2 separate regions of the Homo sapiens genome follow, and region 2 is linked to region 1. Evidence: fine-mapped expression QTL. Tissue or cell type: whole blood. Region 1 holds a variant in brackets; the other region holds the start of a gene. All regions are shown on one strand. Distances are between the middles of the regions. Region 1 overlaps SHTN1 (shootin 1). Region 2 holds the start of SHTN1 (shootin 1).

What was found. PIP is the estimated chance that this variant, and not a neighbour inherited with it, causes the effect.
Region 2: SHTN1 starts here. The variant in region 1 is fine-mapped to the expression of SHTN1 in whole blood (INTERVAL, PIP above 0.99).

What each region holds. Positions count from the first base shown.
Region 1 is chr10:116,954,587-116,965,523 of GRCh38, forward strand. SHTN1 (shootin 1) reads right to left here. Exons shown (of 17, transcript NM_001127211.3): 4 at 5,550-5,644. Among named protein-coding and RNA genes, the nearest start is that of SHTN1, 45 kb to the right of the region's middle. The variant G/C (reference allele first, on the strand shown) is at 4,113.
Region 2 is chr10:116,999,036-117,009,972 of GRCh38, forward strand. SHTN1 (shootin 1) reads right to left here and starts at 6,152. Exons shown (of 17, transcript NM_001127211.3): 1 at 5,987-6,152. The coding sequence starts at 6,044. RefSeq lists an enhancer at 5,235-5,928 and silencers at 5,743-6,037, 5,909-6,018, 6,249-6,328.

The sequences.
Region 1 (10,937 bases):
TGTTTGCCTAACATCTCTCTTTTCTGGACATTACCACTTTCCATTGTTCCACATGATTTCAATGGGAGTGCCATGCTCTCCCAAGCACACCCCATCCCTTTGGCCACAGCGAATTAGTCCAGGGATTAAACACATGACCCAAGTGTGACCAGTCAGATCCCCTCGCTAGAAATTTGGAGGCTGGAACAGAGCAATGAGTTTCTTTCCATGTGCCTGGACAGGAGCTGCTGGTAACCACATTCCACTATAGGATCAAGGAAAAGAGGAAGGTAGTTTTTAGAAAAGCTAAAACTGAAGCTGATGTGTAGAGAAAGGAAGAGAAAAGCAACAGAGAAAGGGTTTCCCACCAGACTCAAGCCCCAGACTCCAGTCCATTCCTAAACTGCTCCTGTCTCAGAGATTCTATGGAAGTCTCTGATATTTCTAACAGATCCCACATCATTTTCTTTTCTTGTTTAAACTAGTTCAAGATGTTGTTTCTACTATCTCTATTAAAAGAGTTCTACTTCACAGCAAAAAAAAAAAAAAAAAAAAGGAATCCTACTTTGTTAATGTATTTTTTATTCCCGGACAGGGAAATGAGTTGGTTTTTTAACTTCAGTTATTCAACTATTATCACCTTCTTTAGCTAATGTGTTTATGTACAAGAAAATTTAGGACAAAGCACACACAAAGACTAAGGATGTTCCAATGTCCACAGAAGTACAATATGGTTTTGCTCATATTTTCTCTTCCCAAGACTAAAAAATAAACAGTTTTCCTTAATTTGCGCACATCAAAGTAATCAGTAGATTATTTTCCCTACTATAAAATGTAAGTTATAGAAATGCAAATACATTTCCTTTACTAGAGCCCTTGACCAGGAAGACATGCTCTGAATTTAATAATTGATATTGGAAACAAATGAACATAGTTCATTGGAAAGATAACTACCTTTCCTCACTGTAAACCTGACACTAGAATAAGATATTTAGCATAGCACTGGTCTGACTTTGCTCTTTCATTTGTGATCATAATTAGGGTTCCTCAGGGTTTCTCATAGAGAAAGCCCAGCCCACTTTAATCTGGGAGATCTGATTTCTACCCCAATAATATGGAACCTAAAGTGGCATGGTCTGGAGCACGAGAGGTTTGTCTGACCTCTTTGGAGAATCAGGAAGAATCTCTAAGAAATGGTTATGAACTCTTCCATGGATTCTTCCTGGAAGACTGGCAAGCTCTATTCAGGAAATCAGACACAACCCTTTATCCTCAGTCCCAGTCTCCAACTCTAGCTTCTGTCTGCACACATTACATTAGGAGATCAAGATAAAAGATGAGGCCCATCATTTCCCAACACCTCTTCCTTAAGTTGGAAAATTCAGATAAAAACTGTTGTGGGTTCTTTAAACCATGAATGCTACAGCATGGCACACGAAGCTCAAGGACCCTCACTTGTCAATTCTCAAACTATCCCATCTTTTAGGAATGTCAGAAGAAAACATCAATTTAAGGAAAAAGTGAAGACATTTAAGACTTAATTTCTGGTTCTGTATCCTAATATTTAAACTAATGGTTCTCAACTCTGGCCATCAGAATCTCTGGAGAGCTTTTTAAAAACCTCAATGCTTAGGCGCTATGCCATACCCAAATCTCTGGCAGTGAAGCCCAGCATAGCCCTTTTTCAGTTTCCCAGGTGATTCTAATGTACATCAACACTAAGAATCATTGATGTAAAGAAACGCATTGCTTTAGTATACAACCCAGCTCTGCAATAAAATTCCATCTCTGCCTCTACAACTAACCTAATCCTTATGTTTCAGTTTTCTCATCAGTAAACTAAGAATTAAGATAGTCTGTATCCCACAATATGATGACTAAATGAGACATTATATATAAAGTATTTAATATAGTAACTGCCACACAGTAAAACTTCAGTGTTAGTTATTCATAGTAAGAAGAGGTTTAGTTTGTGTCTAATTATCCTTTGGAAATCATTTATCAGCTAGTTTTCTTCAAAGTATTCATTTAGGCATTTTCTCCTTCCTCCAGGATACTCAAGAAACTACTAGTTTCTGTCATCTAGTGCTTAATATATTACTTCTTAGACAACCACTACAATAATACCTTAGCAACATCATAGCTAACAGTTCTGCCCTCAAAAGGGTTTAATGCCCCTATCAAACCAGGCACCAAAATCCACCAGTTTGTCTGCAATACAATTACTCTACTTAACAAAGTCACCAGCTCAAGAAAAAAAAGCCAATCAGAAAATTTCATAATCCTTCTCTGAAACCCCATTTTCGCATTTTGAAAGAAGAAATGTAAGATTTATATATATGAGGGTTTTTTTTGTTTTGTTTTTTTGGAGATGGGTTCTTGCTCTGTCACCCAGGTTAGAGTGCAGTGGTATGATCATAGCTCACCACAGCCTCAAAGTCTCAAACTCCTGAGCTCAAGTGACCCTCCCACCTTGTCCTTCCAAAGCACTGGGATTACAGGAGTGAGCCACCACACCCGGCCTAGACATGAGGTCTTATGTGCATACTATTTGAACATTTTTGAGAATTCTGAATTCACAAATTTTGGCTAAGTAATTTCATTGTAGCTATTCATCAAGCTATAGGTTAATTGCATGCTACTTGTTGTTTGGAACCCCTCTATGTCTAAGGCAAAAATATATCTTTTTACTTTTTTTTTTTTTTTTTTGAGATGGAGTCTCTCTGTCACCAGGTTGGAGTAGAGCTGCGTGATTTCAGCTCACTGCAACCTCTGACTCCCTGGTTCAAGCGATTCTCCTGCCTCAGCCTCCCGAGTAACTGCGATTACAGGCACACACCACCACGCCCAGCTAAGCTTTGCATTTTTAGTAGAGACGGGGTTTCACCATGTTTGCCAGGATGGTCTCAATCTCCTGACCTCAGGTGATCTGCCCACCTCAGCCTCCCAAAGTGCTGGGATTACAGGCGTGAGCCACCGTGCCCAGCCAAAAATATATCTTTTATAACCCTACAGTAACAGAACCTACTATTATATTCAAATGTAAATAGGGTTTTTATATTGTCCAGTTTAGTGGCTATTTAAAGGTACAAAACAAGCAAGTTTAATGGCTTTGGATCATATGACTTAAATAACTGGTCCACATTTATCAGTTTAATCTACACATTTTAGCAAAGCAAAGTATCCATACTTGCTTCTAAGAAAATATGAGGAACTGGGCGCAGTGGCTCACGCCTGTAATCCCAGCACTTTGGGAGGCTAAGGCGGGCAGGTCACCTGAGGTCAGGAGTTTGAGACCAGCCTGGTCAACACAGTGAAACACTGTCTCTACTAAAAACACAGAAATTAACTGGGTGTGGTGGCACATGCCTGTAATCCCAGCTACTCGGGAGACTGAGGCAGGAGAATTGCTTGAATCTGGGAGGTGGAGGTTGCAGTGAGCCAAGATGGCATCACGGCACTCCAGCCTGGACAACAGAGCAGGACTCCATTTCAAAAAGAAAAAAAAGAAAATTACGAGGTCAAGCTGCATCATCAGAATTAAACATTCCATTTGTCATTAATTTGATGGCAAAAATTTAGAAAAATAAGAATTTATAGAAACTTTGCTCTCAGGAAAAAAAATGAGCATTTTTGAAAGCCTCCTTTCAAAAATGACAATTGATACTTAAATCAGAATGAAGTCACACATATAATGAAGTTTCCACATTTTGCATTCAAAGCAGTCTTTCACAACAAACAAGCACATTTATAGTATTTGATTTAATCCATTTTTTAAATTTTTTTCTAGGCCCCATGAGTTCATACTATATCTTCAAAAATAAACTATATGTTCATTTTAAAAAAGGGTTTTTAAAGAACAGGCAACAAACAGTGTTAGGTAAGGATCCTATTATTAAGACTTAATTGTAAAAATGAGCTTAGAGATTAGGTAACACTGGTTCGTAACGAGCAATGAATATAACAGTCACCAGGCAGCTTTTCTACATGCACATGCCTGGGCCACACATCTAGAGCCAATGGATCTGGGGTATTATGATGAAGCCAACCATGGTCCATCCTGGCATTTAGAGCAAGACAACTGTAGCTCAGAGAGGTGAGTTCTCTTGCCCAAAAACACCTATTAAATAAAA[G/C]GGGAGACAGAATAAAGTAATTTTTTAAAAGGGGCCATATGCAAATAAATTATTAACTCCAGTCCTAACTCTAGTCCATCATGTCATTTAAGATGAGATACTACACTCCAGAGAACAAAATTAACTTGTCCAAAATCACATATGCCCAAAATTACATAACCAGGAACAAAACCTGTATATACTGTCCCACAAACCAGTGCCTTCCATAAACTCTGCCAATCCTGAAAGGTAGCCAGTATCCTCACTCTGGATGTGCTATGACAACAGGAATACTTGTTAATAACAAGAAAAAATAGAGAGTATATCCTTAGACACTAGAAGATTCAGAGCAGCTAGCAGGCTCCAAATGTACTTTTTCTCTACTTATTCCAAAGAAAGAAATTCAAAAATGAAAATAGAATTCACACAACATTACGGACTAGTGAACTCTAGGAATGTGCCGCAGAGTAAAAATGATGTGAGAATACCCATGTTATCATTTTTTAAAAAGTGTTTTTAAAGTGTATTGCTGTGTATTCTTCAGATGAATAACAGGAGAGAAGTTACATACCCAAATTTATATTCTTAGTTAGGTCCTGATTAAATATCTTATGAATTCTAATGTAGTGTTGTTATGCAAACAATTAAGCAAATACCTCTAGGAAGCACACTGTTAATGCATACAAATTACATTTATTTATGTATTTATTGAGAGTAGGATTTCAGTCACATCCAAAGAAATTTTCGGAGGTGGGTGATGGAGGGGAGGGAAAAGAAACACAACCAGTATTACTAATGAAATTTGGTTGAAAATTGCTGTAATCCACTTTCTGATGAAGTGGTTCAGATGCATTTTACCCAACCCAAAATACATAAGACAGAGATAAAAAAAACATTCTTTAATAATAATGTACTTCTGATGAGATAGAATGTAGAAAATTACACACTTGGTAAATTCATCAGCAAGAGGCAATCAGTGGAACACTGGAGGTCACCTTCAGCATGCCCTCGCTTTGCTTTCATAAATAATCACCTGAAATGCACGGCTTCAGGGTGACTTTTTCATCTGATTCAAATATGAGACATTCACTGCTCTTTTATGTCACACCAGGTTAGTTTTAAACTTGGTTAGCATTTTAACCAAATGCATGGACATTTGCAAAGTCCCCTTTAACACTACTCTGGGACCATTTTTTCCACATTTTCACAGGCAAAAAGCACAAATGCTGAAATACTCACATACAAATGCTCCTTTTACAATTTGGAATAACCTTTGCATTAAGGTGAATATTTACATAATCATATTCCAGGATTCTGAGGCCTTTTAACATTTCCCTCATCATCAGAGTAGATAATCGATTAGAGAAGTAGAAAAGCAAAACCAGATAGAAGCCACTGCTTAGAAAAGCAAGTTGAAATTTAAAAGCTCAGGTAAAATTCCTTCATTTGAAGTCTCACCTTTGTTGCCAAAGCTTCAGCACTTTCTCGACAAGTCTTCTCTATTTCAAGATGGTTCTGCATGAAATTAACTTCCTCTATGACCATGTGAGAAACTAGGAATGAGGGGGAAAAAAAATCTCAGCATTCAAAGATTAGTCAGCTATTCCAGGAGCCCACGCATCGTCCCATGATTAAGAATACTTCAATTCTTTGGCTAGCCAGACCTTTAGCTATCACTGAAAAAAGGTTTTTGAGAAGCTGCCCTGATTAAATCTGAGCTAATATTTGAATGTAGAAAGAAACAAGAACACAACAAAATACATTCATTTCACATACATACATTTTATTATGTACATTTTAAGAGCGCTATTTAGATTTTTTTACAAGTCTATTTTCTATGCAACTATATATGTATCCATAGACATATGTGCTAGTTTAAACAAAAGAATATTTCATAAATAAAGAGGAGTGACAGCATGACTTCTTTTTCTCAGCAGTGTATAACACATGGCTCTAATAAGAAAAATTAACAAAAAATAAAAGAAAAATAAATCTTAAATTGATCTTATGACTGGAGTAGTGATGTGGCGACTTGGCTAAGTACTGCAACATTTGTCTCTATTAGCTACAAAGTAGTTACTGCTATTTCATAAGTAACTCTCAGGCAGAAAAGTATAGCAGTAAGATTTATGTACTATATGGTTATAAAGCAGATGCTAATAAATTACTTCCTGAATCATAGGCTATCAGAAGCATTAGAAGAAAAATAAAATTTTACTTGATATGTCACCAATGCTCGAAAAATTGTATTTTTTAGATTTTTTGACAGCTGGTGCATGTAAATTGAGATTTACAGGTATAAAGTGATTTAGAACTTGAGTTATATTTTGAAGATCAAGAAAGAAAAATGCCAATTCCTTCCACCCATATTTCTAGTTAAATGAAAACTCTCAGAATCTCAACCCTAAATGTAGACATTACTTATTGCTATTTGTTTGGCTTAAAAAAAAAAAAATTAAAGGACACCCAAATGTGAAACCCAACAAAGTTAGGCAAAAAGCACTGGGCTCACATAACACAAAGAGAGATTACTTTTGCTTCATTTAAGCTTAATTAACCTGCAATTATGATTAAACTCAGGGGAAAAAATTTCTCTCCAAATTAAATACAAAAATGTATTACTTCCTAAGTCTGTCCAAAGTTCTTATTATGTTAATATTCAAATTCATAAAGCAGCACTAAATGGCCAGAAACATCTCTAACCTTGACATTTTTTCAGGGGTAATAATAATCTGCAGCAAATGCAGGCCAACCAAAAACCACTTAACTAATTAGTAGTTGCAGTCACCGAGAAAAACATGAATCAACACTGTTATTACAAGTGGCACATTTGAGTGGCATCTAATTATGACTTGATGAGCACGATACTTGCATTATCAACATTACTACTGCATCCCATCAGGGCCTAAAAGCTGCTGATGGCATTGACTTCGAGAAACTCCCACTCAATGGTACAGCAGCACCCAACAATCGGCTTGGCAGGGGCCCCCCTCACTAAATGACACGTTAAGCGTAATTACTGGTAGACATTGTAAATAAACAGGATTGGAAGTGAAAATTGTACCAAGTGCATAAGACACAATCTGACACATTGGAAGTGGCAGCCTTAATTGAGAGTTTCTTTGACTGCTCAAGATCATTTCAACTGCATTTCTCAGAGGACAGTGATTATAACTGTGGAGACAGACGGCATAATGGTATCAGCACTGCTGACAGAGCAGTGAATTAAATTGTATCTGCTGTTGTGTGAAAGCCTTGATGAGAGGTACAGATGCCTTAGTGGTCTTATCATTATAACACAATGGTCATGTTGTCATCAACCTTTCTGGCTCCAATTGAAAAGAAATGATTGTGTGTTGAAGCTCCCCCCCCCTTCCACATCACCCCCCTTCTTCTCTTCTATCTCTTGTTCTGAATAGAACCAATTTTCAGAGAGCTATGAAATCACGCAATAGGTCCTAAAATGCAGCTGCTTGGCATACAAACGGGTCCCCATTAAACTGGAATCACACACAATATGTGTTTATGCCAGAAGAACAAATAGAAGCTGAACACAGGCCAAGTTTATTCACACACACAAAGCCCATGTAGCTCTTCATCAATATAATTGCCTTTTATATTGTAGTTTAAATAATAGGCTCTATTATTTCCTTAAAATCCTAATATTCCTGGCATTTTATCACTATGTTTACAAGGTAGGTTCTTCAAAAATGTGAAGGAAAGAGAAAAGAAACCTATACAATTTTTACAACATCAAATATTACTTTGAATTTTTAGCCTTAACTACTTGACATCTTCTGCCACAATCTGGTATTTCCACTATCATAACAAAAACATAAACACTCTGCATTTTTCATAGGAATCTTACTTTTTATTCAATAACATTCTTGCTCTTGAAAGAGTAAGAAAATTCATTCCACAGTAGTGAGGTTTAGGCCTAGCAAATAGGAAACAAAACAAAACAAAAAAAACATTTATTTTCTGAACATTTTGTAAAAAGGTGCCCTGTGATTCAACTTGATAAACATAGCTGGGTAGTCCTTGCTCACATTTTCTCCAGTTCTGATTTGGTACACTCCATCTGGTGGGGTTTTTATTTCTTCTCAAAGAGAGAACAGTAGACATTTTTTTAAATTGCGCATTAATTTTTAGTTTAAGAAATTATTCCAGTGCTAAACTGGTAGCATAACAACCTACTTACCAATGTTCTAGGTTCATATGGGAAGAGTATATTTCAAAGGGTGATTATATCTTTAAAAAGCATGACCCCATTTCCAAAACCAAAAGTCAAGTCACATGACGCAAAACAGAAATACTTTTAATATGTAAATTTATTTGCACATTTTGAATAATAAAAGTTTTTTTTTTTTTTTTTTTTTTTTTTTTTTTTTTTTTTTTTTTTTTTTTTTTTTGAGACGGAGTCTCGCTCTGTGGCCCAGGCTGGAGTGCAGTGGCGCAATCTCGGCTCACTGCAAGCTCCGCCTCCCGGGTTCACGCCATTCTCCTGCCTCAGCCTCCCGAGTAGCTGGGACTACAGGCGCCCGCCATCACGCCCGGCTAATTTTTTTGTATTTTTAGTAGAGACGGGGTTTCACCGTGTTAGCCAGGATGGTCTCGATCTCCTGACCTCGTGATCCGCCCGCCTCGGCCTCCCAAAGTGCTGGGATTACAAGCGTGAGCCACCGCGCCCGGCCATAATAAAAGTTTTTTAAACGTTTAGCTATTCATGTAATAATTTGCCCTATGGTTCTGAATTGGGCTTGTCTCAGGATATCCACAATCCATGGCCACTGTACTTGTCATATTTGCATATTTGGATGACATGAGGTTTAAAAAAGAAAAAAGATGAACTTTTAATAAAGTGTCCGTAATACTGCAGTTATGTTAAAAAGAAAAGACTACTAATCTTTTAGAAATATATACTGAAATATTTCCAGGCAGTAAACAGTAAAATGATATGATGACTGGAATTAGTTCCAAAGCAATCTGAGGTCAGTGACAGTGGGTGTATGGGTGTACAGTTGGAAGACTGGCTGTGAGTTGGCAACTGTTGCAGCCAGAAAACTGGAACATGGGGATTCGTTAAATTATTTTCCCGCCTTTGCATCACTTTGAAATTTTTCATAGTAAAAAAATTTTAATGACCCTGAGAACATAGAAGTATAACATAAAAGTACATCAAGTATTGTTTCTATTAGTCTACTTGAATTAGCGAAGTTTGTCTCTCTTCAACTATGACTTCAAAGCAGTCTTACATAAATGGCAGTGTAGTACACATCACATTGTAGGGTAACTGTTTTTTTTTTTTTTTACTTGTTTTTATCTTCTACTCACTATGAACATTAGAGCAGGGATTTTGTTTTACATGTCTGATTCTCTTGCACCTAGCACAATGCTACATGCAAAGCAGGTGCTCGTGTTAGTGTCTATTTGAAGGACTGAAGGCCTAAGCTCGCCTGTGAACAGCCTTTTATGAGAATGTTCTCTGTAGTATAGAATTGCTTAGGAAACAACTACCATCGCCATTTGTTGAGCCTGACTATGTGTCCAGCCTTGTGCTAAACTCTTTACATGTGTTCCCTCCTTCACAAAGCCTCACAACAATCCTATAACGTAGGGATCATCACAGCAATTTTATATTTGAGAACACGGAGGCCCAGAGAAGTTAAATAACATATTCCAAATCACAGAGTTCTAACTGGTAAAACCCAGTTAAAACCATTTCTAGGTGACTCTACTTTTCTATAGTCCTTTCTAATTCATTATACAAGGTGTCACCACCAATGATGTTGCTTCTAGAGCAAATCTCTCCCAACTCTAACTCCCAGCGATATTTAGATGTAGAATATCTCTAAAGCATATGTGGTGAACATATCACAAATTCTTCTTCAACATCACACTACTTCAAAAGTTTTCCATGTGGTAAGGAAAGAGCCATGAAAGTTGGCATATATGTAGGAAAATCGGTGTGTCCTTAAAACAGATTAATGGATCTAATATTGTGGCTGAAAAGACATGAAAGGGGCTGGGCGCGGTGGCTCATGCCTGTAATCCCAGCACTTTGGGAGGCCAAGGCAGGCAGATCACCTGAGGTCAGGAGTTCGAGACCAGCCCGGCCAACATGGTGAAACCCTGTCTATACTAAAAATACAAAGTTAGCTGCCTGTAATCCCAGCTACTTGGGAGGCTGAGGCAGGAGAATCACTTGAACCCAGGAGGCGGAGGTTGCAGTGGGCCAAGAACACGCCACTGTACTCCAGCCTGGGCAAAAAGAGCAAAACTCCATCTCAAAAATAAATAAATAAATAAATAAAAAGATATGAAAGGTCTTTAGTTACCTTTCACAGGAATCCGGTCTAGGGAATGCAGCTTTGCTATGTAGTGGTGTTCTTTGTGTGTAGGAGGAAGGCTCAGAGAGAGCTGGCGAGGATCAAAAATGACATGGACATATGGATAAAAACATTTATCCTGGGAAAAGTATGCTAAGCTAGGGAGAGTAGAGCCCTATGGCCAAACAAAGCTTTTCCTAACCCTTAGTCAGCTGTTCCGTAGGCCTAGGCCGGGTGTGGTGGCTCACGCCTGTAATCGCAGCACTTTGAGAGGCTGAGGCAAGAGGATCACTTGAGGTCAAGAGTTCAAGACCAATCTGGCCAACATGGTGAAACCCCATCTCTACTAAAAATACAAAAAATAGCCAGGCATGAGGGCACACACCTGTAATCCAAGCTACTTGGGAGAGTGAGGCACAAGAATTGCTTGAATCCAGGAGGCGGAGGTCGCAGCGAGCAGAGATCACGCCACTGCACTGCAGTCTGGGCAACAGAATGAGACTCCGTCTCAAAAAAA
Region 2 (10,937 bases), 44 kb after region 1:
CCAGGCTGGTATCAAACTCCTGGGCTCAAGGTATCCTCCTACCTTGGCCTCCCAAAGTGCTGGGATTATACGCGTGAGCCAACACAACCAGCCCAGAAGCATTATTTGTAATAGCAAAAACAAGGAAAGAAAGATAGAAATGTCCATCCAGAGGACATTAAATACATTGTGGTACGTCTGTACATTGGAACATTAATCAATTTTTAATGACAACGCTACATGTACTAATATAAAAAATTACATATTACATGATAAATACATATGCACATACAAACACAATTTCTGGAAGGAAAGAAAACAAAAGGTTAACAGTAGTTAACTTTGGGAAATGGGAATGGGGTCATAGCATGCATTGTCAATGTAGTGATTTCATCCTCAAGGAGATAAGAGAAAAGATCTTGGATATTACAATGGCTTATGGCCCTTCAAAGAGTCACAGTGCATAAAACGCCTAAAAAGTTTCCTTAGGAGAGTGATAATGAAATAAAGATTGAGAAACAATGGGTCAGATAGAATAGTTAATTGTACTTTTCACTTTACACACTTGTTTTCTATGAGCATGTGTTTATTTTTGCATTTATTTTAAAAAAGGTTCACAGCTGGGTGCGGTGGCTCACGCCTGTAATCCCAGCACTTTGGGAGGCCTAGGCGGGTGGATCACAAGGTCAGGAGTTCGAGACCAGCCTGACCAACATAGTGAAACCCCATCTCTACTAAAAATACAAAAATTAGCCGGGTGTGGTGGCACATGCCTGTAGTCCCAGCTACTTGGGAGGCTGAGGCGGAAGAATTGCTTGAACCTGGGAGGCGGAGGTTGCAGTGAGCCGAGACCACGCCATTGCACTCCAGCCTGGGTGACAGAGTGAGACTCTGTCTCAAATAAATAAATACATAAATAAATAAATAATATTAAGGAAATAGTGAAATTCTGACTAGAAGACATAGTTCCTTAGCCCACACTGCATGTTCATCTCATGGGGGGTTGCCAAACTGTTGTTCTTCAGCAACCACTCCCTAACTTTCAGAGGAAAATGCATTGTTGATAAGTACCTGGTGATTCAGATGCAGCTGGCCCTTGTACCACACTTTGAAAAATACTGATGTAAAACCAAGTTTGCACTTGAAAACAAGGCAACATTTAATTCCAAACAGCTTTCTACTGGCTGATCTCATATGCACCCAAGATTGTCAATGCTTCCGTTTTCCCAGACTGACGTGGTCATTGTGGTAGGCAATAGTTTCAGACTGTTTTGTCAAAATAATGCTCCAGTTATTTCCTGGCCTAGAAGCCAATGGAATACTGGATGCATCTTTTAATTACTAACTTGCTCTAAGAATAAGCTTGACTAGATTTCCATGTGAACTTAAGTATCATCTCAATAATCTTGGGGAAAACGATACTAACTCTAAAGGTGAAAAGAGGTTTAAAATTGCTTTAAAACCAATTACCTCACCATAGGAAATCCATTTTAAATACTGTTAGCCCAAAAATTGCCCATTATTGGGGTGGTGGTGGTTGTTTTCCTCTTATGTATGTCCTTATTATTAAATAGCCATCTCTCTTCAAAATTTCATCAACTTGGAAATGACATGGCATTACTACACTGAACAGTTTAGCAGACATGTGTTGTCTGTGTCTGCCCGGTCAGCATCCTCATGGTAGTGCACCCCATTCTGTTTTGGACTATTCCTCCAATCTTTGCAGGGGCTGCCAATTAAAGTATCCTGCCCTCCCGTGGCCAAAGTATTTGAATACATGAGATTGGCCAAACTAGGCCAATCAGACACTCCTCCTGGAATTTACATGCCTAGCACTATCTCTAGACCAGGAACTCCTCACCAGCAGAGGCAAGGTCTTATTCAGCTCTATCTCTCTGATGCCTAGCACAGTGCCTGGCTATGAATATTCAATGCATGTGGGCTGAATGAATTATACAGAAAATCATGCACCTTAAACAAATGCTGAACTAAGTCTATCATTTTCCCACTGAATTCCGGAGGGGGAGCAAATTGTATGATGTTTTGTAAGGGAAATATCCACTTTAGTAGCTAGGAAATATGCCTCGGAAATAGTATCCAAAGTTGCCATTTCTCGGTGCATTAAAGATGTCAATCAGTCCAATAAAATAAAGCCCCAAAAAAGACAAAAGGAGAATTACCTCATTACCTCAACATCTGCTTGAACATAAGCAATCACACACTGGCTAATTTTTTTTAAAGGGACATAATATAACTTTCTGGAAAGACATAATATAGCTAATTATACCATTCACTAGGAGGGAACATAAAATGTTTTGAAGTAATTCAGAAGTGGGTGTGATTTATAAGACATAGAGCTTAGGGAATGGTAAGTATAAATTAGAGATTGTTCATATTATGACAGACTCCGTCATTACATTTCACAACTTTTGTCAAAAGCAACCTTATTCACCACACCACTAAAGGCTTCACGTTAGGGAAGGCTGCTGTCAGCTTTGTGGTTTAGAGTAGACAGGAATCTCCTTTCTGAACACTCTCCTGGGGAACTGGTTCAAGTTTTAGACTTAAAACTTACTAAGGCAGGGCAAAATGAAGAGAGATTGTTTAATGGGTTCAAACATAGTTAGATACAAGGAGTAAGTTTTAACATTTTGATAGCAAAGTAGGGTGACTACAGTTAACAACAATGTATTATATATTTCAAAAGAGATAGAAGAGAGGACTTGAAATGTTCTCAACTCATTGAAATGATAAATACTGGAGGTAATGGATATCCCAAATACCCTGACTTGATCATTATGCATTCTAAGCATGTAACAAAATACCCCATGTCTTCTATAAATATGTACAAGTCTCATGTATCAGTTTAAAAAAAAATCACTAAGGAAGGACCCATATGATGAAACCTAAATGGCCAATGGCCATGTAAAAAGATTTCAAACATCACTAATAACCAGAGCAATGCAAATCTTAAAAGGTAACATTCTGCCCATTAGATTGGCAAAAATTCAAAAACTTGTCAGGCCATCAAATGAATAAAGATTGCTATTAGCCAGAGTTGACCAATGTGTGGGGAAATGGGTACTGCTGAAGGATATCTGAACTGGTATAATCATTTTGGAGGGCACTTTTGCAATGTCTAGCAAAAGTAAATGTCCGTGCCCTCTAATCCAACAATTCCATTTCTTCTAAGAATCTATCCTAGAATAAAAAAGTAATTGTACATTTATTCATATGATAACTTGAATAGTACCTGTCTTCTCTTCTAGAAAATTAATTTGGTGACAAGGACTGTGTAGTTCACTATTTACACCCCTAGTGCCTACCACATGGACCTGACATATGGTGGTACTTGATAAGTATTTGTTGAAGGAATGAATAAATATGTTTACTCAGCATTATTAAGGGAAAATAACATATTTGATAAATAGTGGTTCTTCTTGCTCACACTAAATAGGGGTAGTGGAATTATCACTCAGAATATTAACATTGTGAGTAAAAAGGTAGTAACAGGTAGTAAAAATTACTATTTTCAAAAATAAACCATGCAACCATCAGCTTACAAAATTGATCATAGTATGTACTGTTAAATGCTCAAAGACCCAGTTACCTGTTCTTCCAAATCCCTAGCTTCCCAATTAGTTCTACAGGTCAAACAGTAACTGAACACTTTTGAAGTAAATTGTTTCCACAGTCTGTGATCCAATGACAAGCAAACTACCTGGTTTTGAAATGTATAAAAATCACACTGTGGGCTGAAAAAATCCCAACACCTTTGTAACTAGACTCACTATCCCCAAAAGTGTACCTTTTAAGAAACACAACTTTGAATATCTAACTGTTCTATTACCTTTCATATGCACTTAATCAAGGAAATATATCCTCTAAAAATACCAATGCCAAGGATTTGTTTATTTTCCAATACAATGCAATAGGAGAAAGAGCCACAAATATAGAAATCCTTTTTGTCAGGCCTCAAACCCAACATAGGAATGGAGAATGTGTTCCGAAATCAAATATAAGCAATTTGCAGATTATCTACATTGTTAATCGACCCTTGATTATACAAGAAATGAAAGGGAAAATTTTTTTATGTTTATCATTATTCGAAAACTGACCAACCATAAGAAGATCTGATATCCACTGACAGATATTACCTATAATGAAAGCTCCACAAATCTAGAATATGAATCAAGTTTTAATGTTTTGGGTTGGGCGAAGGTGTATTAAATATAAAATACCAGTCAGTAGAATCCAGTCCCTCGCTAAAACACTTGAGAAACTTCAGATAAAGGCATTCTGTCCACCCACTAAATTCACTGATGCTTGTGACTTTATGACCTCAGGCTAATCTAGGATGCCAGGTAAAGGTGCTGGGAAGGCCAAAGAGACTAACATTTATCCAGCACTTTCTAGATGCTGGATATCACAGAAGAATGTGTTATGTCCATTTCAGAGGTTAAATAATTTCCCCAGGGTCACACAGTAAACAGTAATGTTGAAATTTGTTTGCCAGAGTGTGGCTTCAGAGGAATCCGGGAGCACTTCCCAACGGTGTCTGTGGTTTTACGCAACAACAGGTAAGAGTACTGGACAGGACCTCAGAAAGTCCTCCAGTTTCACCCTCGCCTTTAGTCAGGTCGGCCTTGATTGACCAGAAGATCCACGGAAGGAAAGAGACTCCTCCAAGTTCACAGAGCAGGTGAGCTGGGCCAAGAGAAGTGAAAGAGCTGCAACTAAATACCAGGTTTTGCCACAGAGCAGGGATCCTTCCATTACATGGTCTTGTCAGCAAGACATTCAGAAAAGTACATGTTCCTACACATTTTTACTTCCTTTAAATCTGTATGGTTCCTCCCTTTATTTCTTTATTATTTATTATTATTATTTTTTTTTGGAGATGGAGTTTCGTTCTTGTTGCCCAGGCTGGAGTGCAACGGCGCCATCTTGGCTCACCGCAACCTCCGCCTCCTGGCGATTCTCCTGCCTCAGCCTCCCGGGTAGCTGGGATTACAGGCATGCACCACCACGCCCGGCTAATTTTGTATTTTTAGTAGAGATAGGGGTTCTCCATGTTGGTTAGGCTGGTCTCGAACTCCTGACCTTAGGTGATCCACCTGCCTCGGCCTCCCAAATTGCTGAGATTACAGGCGTGAGCCACCGCACCCGGCTGGTTCCTCCCTGTCTTGACCCACATTCGCAGACCACCCTTTGGTCAGGGTAATAATGATAAGTGTTTAAATGTGATAGGTTAGCATTTGGTTGTTGATCTGGTTTGGTTCAGAAGTGTGGTAACTGATGAAAAAAATGATTGACTGAAGCAGGTCTTTATTAAAGGATAATCCCCAGTTACCAAGCAGTACAGAAATGCGTGCGCATGGCCTGGCTCTCCTTCGCCCAGCGTCAACCCTGTTAATTCTGAAAGCTCAACACTGGCAGGATGTTGACCTTGCTGACTAATAAACTGCTAAAATTGAGAAGTGATTAAAAAAAAAATTATGGCCTGAAAATCCCAGCTGGGCAAGGAAAGAGGAACTAGACCGAATCCAAACGAAAAGCTGGGAAGGGTGTGAAACAGCCCTACAGGCCACCCAGCGCCAACAAATGTGTAAGGGTGGGGCCAAGCTAGCTGAGCCGCCCAAAGCAGCCAAAATATCCTGCCCCACCCGCTTCTCCGGCAAGGAAGGTGGCACTGTGCAACCTCGTCCGCACTGAATCCTCGTCCCTTCCCCCAGCCCCCGATCGCCAGCAAACGCAACCAGCGGGCAGCGGGTCTCGAGCTGCGGGGCCTGACTAGCCCCGACACTCCGCGTTATCCTCGGTCCAGAGCTTTCCCAGGCGCGCCGGCCACGGAGGACGCTTCTCTGCGGGTGACGGAGCTACTGCGGTGACCACGGCGGCCGCCACGTCTCCCGCCCGGCTTCCAACTGCCCTGGCCCCAGCGCCCTGGGGCCGTCCCCGCCCACGGGCCGCGGCTGCCCACACCTGGCGCCCGCGTGCTGCCTACCTTGCTCCTTCAGACTGGTAATGAGCTGCAGCTGCTTCTCTTCGTCCGAGCTGTTCATTTTGGCGGGTGGGGCCGGGAATAAAAGGGAAAGAGGGAGCGGCGCGGGGCACACAGGAGGAGGGGGAAGAAAAAGCAAGATGCCGGTGGCTTGCGGCTCCACTACCCGGAAGTTGGATCCGCTCCCGCTCCTCCTCCTCCTGGCGCGGAGCGCGCGAGTGAGATCATCCCCACGCACCTACTCGGCGGCTGCGGCCGCTTCACCTGCAGGCGGGGCGGGGCGGGCCCAGCAGTCCCGTTCAGGGGGTGGAGGAACGAGGGCGGGTCGGCAGCCGCTATGCCAGCCTGTGGCTGCCGGCGCGGCAGGACGCGCTGGTGGGAGGGGGGGCGGCCCTGCGTGGGGTCGCTCCGCACCCTTTTCTCCGCCTCCACCTCCCGGACTCAGGGACGCGAGTTCAGAGAAAACCGGCTGTGGGTTCGCAGCGTGTGTGGGAACTCCACTTTGGACGCTTCCCGGGGGTCGCTCCCAAAGAACCACAGAGGTAGAGCGGGACGCAATGAGCCATGAACGCCTGGGCTTCTTCCCTAGTTTTCCCGCAGTAGACTCTGGGGGCGCGGTTGCAAAACCTAGCTGCCCACAGGGGCGGGCCCAGGGTGGTACATTTTGCACCTTGAAGAGGAGACAAGGATCGAATCAGGCCGCCCAGCTACTTAAATGACCATGCCGTGAGTGAAGGAGGGCCCTGGCTAGCTTTCCCCCATCGCACCAGGTTTGCCAGGTGGTCAGAACGTGGACCCTGCTGCACGTGGATGGTGGGGCCTGGAGGGCCCTTGCAGATCATCTGGTTGGTGGCGGGATGACCTTCCCTTTAGAGAGGGTGCCACTGCAGTCCGAATGCCGAAGGTCACGCAGCCCCCGGGCAGCAGAGGCTGGCAGTTAAGCCAAGCGTTTGTCCCAGTTCACTGCCCTCTGAACTATTTGAACTCATGTCTGTGTTAGACCATGCCCAGGAGAGAAGTGGCAGGTCTGCATTGTTTCAAAGGTGCTTCTCCCCAACCCCTAGTTGCGAGCTAACCTTTGGTCAAGTCTCCTGCATCTTTGAACTTCATCTGAAGAATAGGAAGAATAGTGATACCTACTCTCAAGGAAGAGTTGTAAGGATTTAATAGAGGAAGATTAACAAAACACCAAGTCCAGAATTTATAATGCAGTTTTTTTTTGTTTTTTTTTTGTTTTTTTGTTTTTAATAAAGATTACAGGTCTGTGGCCGGGCACAGTGGCTCACGCCTGTAATCCCAGCACTTTGGGAGGCCAAGGCGGGCAGATCACGAGGTCAGGAGATCGAGACCATCCTGGCTAACACGGTGAAACCCCGTCTCTACTAAAAATACAAAAAATTAGCCGGGCGTGGTGGCAGGCGCCTGTAGTCCCACCTACTCGGGAAGCTGAGGCAGGAGAATGGCGTGAACCCGGGAGGCGGAGCTTGCAGTGAGCCGAGATCGCGCCACTGCACTCCAGCCTGGGTGACAGAGTGAGACTCCGTCTCAAAAAAAAAAAAAAAAAAAAATTACAGGTCTGTGAGAAAGGGGTTGTGGTTGCTGACTATAAGCTGAAGGTTGCAGTTCTTTTACACTGATCATTAAGCATGGGAGATAAGTCCAAACTGAATTAGACTTATTGCACAGCTTGGTTTTTCTCACTACCTCTAAGCTCTTAGTTTGGGTACAGCAACAGCACAGTGCTGCTCATTCCTCAATTGCTGTTTTATGGAAGTGCCCAGCTCCATTTCTTGTGTTCATTTCTCCATGATAGTTGTAGAGTGAGGTTGAGATATGGGTAAATCCTGTAACTAGTGTCTTTCTGATACTCACTACATGCTAACTAAAATTTTGAAAAAAAAAATGGTAGCACTGCTTTCTCTTTCTCTAAAATGGCAATATAGTACTTTAGCATGAGTGATTTAGGGGTAGAATGATCTAAAAGGGCAGCATAGTATTTTTTAATACAGTGTATTAAAATGTTTAAAGTTTAAAAATAATTTTGATATGGGATTGTATTATTCAGCCCTTTCCCTAGGTATGCGTAAGATAATTCAAGATAGTTGCAGATAGCTGCCATGAAGATCCCCAGGAGATAATAATAAAAAAATCCGGGAGATTTTAATGAAAAATAATGGACATTTAGCTTTTGTCCAGCAGTTGGGAAACCTGTTAAACCTGATGAGTCATCCTGACTCATTCTCTCTCACTCTACCAAATACAAGCAGAGTGCCCATTAAATATTTGGCTTAGTTCACAAAGTTCCATTTTTTTTTAATGGCTGATTTGTCTACTCCAATTATACAGTAGTTAGATAGTATTTCTGGAGTTTAAGAATGAGTTAATTATCAAATCTATAATCAAACTTTTGGTTCCATACTAAATCTGCGGCCTCTTGCAATTAATCCCATTTATCCTCCTTAAAATTAGAAAAGGCTCCTGAGCTGAGATTCTGCCACTGCACTGCAGCCTGGGTGACAGAGTGAGACTCCATCTCAAAAAAAAAAAAAAAAAAAAAAAAAACTCCTGAAATACAATATGGCATTCACTTGAGGACATGGTATGAATTATTAGGAGGGCTATTAGAGTCCTTATTGGGATTCAGTTCTCCCATTACACTATTGTTTATTTATATGATATGAATATTGATGGAAAGGATAGAAGTGATAAATTAGTTTTTGTTCCGTTTAATAATATACAGAGTGATGGCTATGGGAGGCCGAGGCGGGCAGATCACGAGGTCAGGAGATTGAGACCATCCTGGCTAACACGGTGAAACCCTGTCTCTACTAAAAATAAAAAAAGCTGGGTGTGGTGGCGGGCACCTGTAGTCCCAGCTACTCGGGAGGCTGAGGCAGGAGAATCACTTGAACCCGAGAGGCGAAGGTTGCAGTGAGCCGAGATCATGCCACTGCACTCCAGCCTGGGTGACAGAGCGAGACTCCATCTCAATAATAATAATATACATAGTGATTTATGTTGCAGGCATCACGTTGGAGTTACTATTGACCTCCAAATAACAGGTCATTTAAAACCCTTAAAAATGTGTGTGTTTACATATATATATACAAATATATACATAGAGATAAAGGACAGACTTTTAAAAAATGAATTGGAAGAATATGTGCCAAACTCAGGATAATGGCTGTCTCTAGGGATAGAAAGTAGGGGAACAGGACCAAGGTGTGGGGGTTGGAGTGTGAAAGTGCAGTGGTCAAGAAGGAGTTTCTCTTTAATCTTTATTTAATTTTTCAGGTAATTAAAGTAAAATCACATATGTCATCTTTTGAGGTATACAGATAAATAAGATTGAAATACAATGAGGAGAAGAAGGTTCACTGTCTTTGATCCACTAATTCTATATCAGGGAATCTATCCTAAAAGGCTTATGTACAGAGCTATTTAATGTAATGTTAATTATCATATGAAAATGGCAATATTGGAATATTATTTGGTAATAAAAATAAAGTACTGATATATGGTACAACACAGATGAAATTTGAAAACATTATACTCAGTGAAAACTTGATCAGAAAAGACCAGATATTGTATGATTGCACTTGTATAAAATGATCACAACAGGCAAATCCATAGAGGGAGAAAGTTGATTGGTGAGTATCTACTGAGGTGGGGTGAAAGTAGGGGAGGTCTGGGAGAAAACAGGGAATGGCTGCTGATAGGTGTGTGGTTAATTGTTGGGGTAATACAAATTTTCTAAAATTAATTGTGGTAATGGTTGTACAATTCTCTGAATATACTCAAAACTATAGAATTGGCCGGGCGCTGTGGCTCACGCCTGTAATCCCAGTACTCTGGGAGGCCAGGGCGGGTGGATCACCGGAGGTCAGGAGTTTGAGACCAGCCTGACCAATATGAAGAAACCCAATCTCTATTAAAAATATAAAAAATAAGCTGGGCGTGGTGGCACATGCCTGTAATCCCAGCTACTCAGGAGGCTGAGGCAGGAGAATCACTTGAACTCAGGAGGAGGAGGTTGCAATGAGCCGAGATCGTGCCATTGCACTCCAGCCTGGGCAACAAGAGCAAAATTCTGTCTCAAAAAAAAGAAAAGAAAAGAAAATATCAACCAAATATGCACAAAAGGAAAGGAGAAAGAAGTCAAAATGATTACCAAAAACATACACATTTTTTTAAAAACTAAGTATAAAATAAGGCAATAATGAAGCAAATGAAGAGCAAAAGAGCTATAAGACATATAGATAATACATAGCAAAATTGCAGAAATAAGTCATTTCTTATTAACTGTAACTTTAAATGAAGATGGCTTAAACTCTCCAAAAGGCAAACACTGGCAGGATGCAAAAAAAAGTATGATCTAACTATATGATGTCTACAAAATATTTATTTTAGATCCAAAGACAACAATAGATTTAAAGCAAAATGGTAGGAAAAAATTTAATTAGTAACCAAAAGAGAGTTGGGGTGGTTATATTAATATCAGACAAAACAGACTTTAAGTCAAAAACTGTTACAATAAACAAAAGTCTATATTCACAAAAGGGTTGATTCGGTAAGAATATATAATTACTATAAACATATATACAAGCTGGGCACGGTGGCTCAAGCCCGTAATCCCAGCACTTTGGGAGGCCGAGACGGGCAGATCACGAGGTCAGGAGATTGAGACCATCCTGGCTAACACTGTGAAACCCCGTCTCTACTAAAAATACAAAAAATTAGCCGGGCGTGGTGGCGGGCGCCTGTAGTCCCAGCTACTGGGAGGCTGAGGCAGGAGAATGGCATGAACCCGGAAGGCGGAGCTTGCAATGAGCCGAGATCGCGCCACTGCACTCCAGCCTGGGCGACAGAGTGAGACTGTCTCAAAAAAAAGGAAAAGAAAAAAAAAACTTATGGAATACCGTGAAGACAGTGCTCAGAGAGAAATTTATAGTTC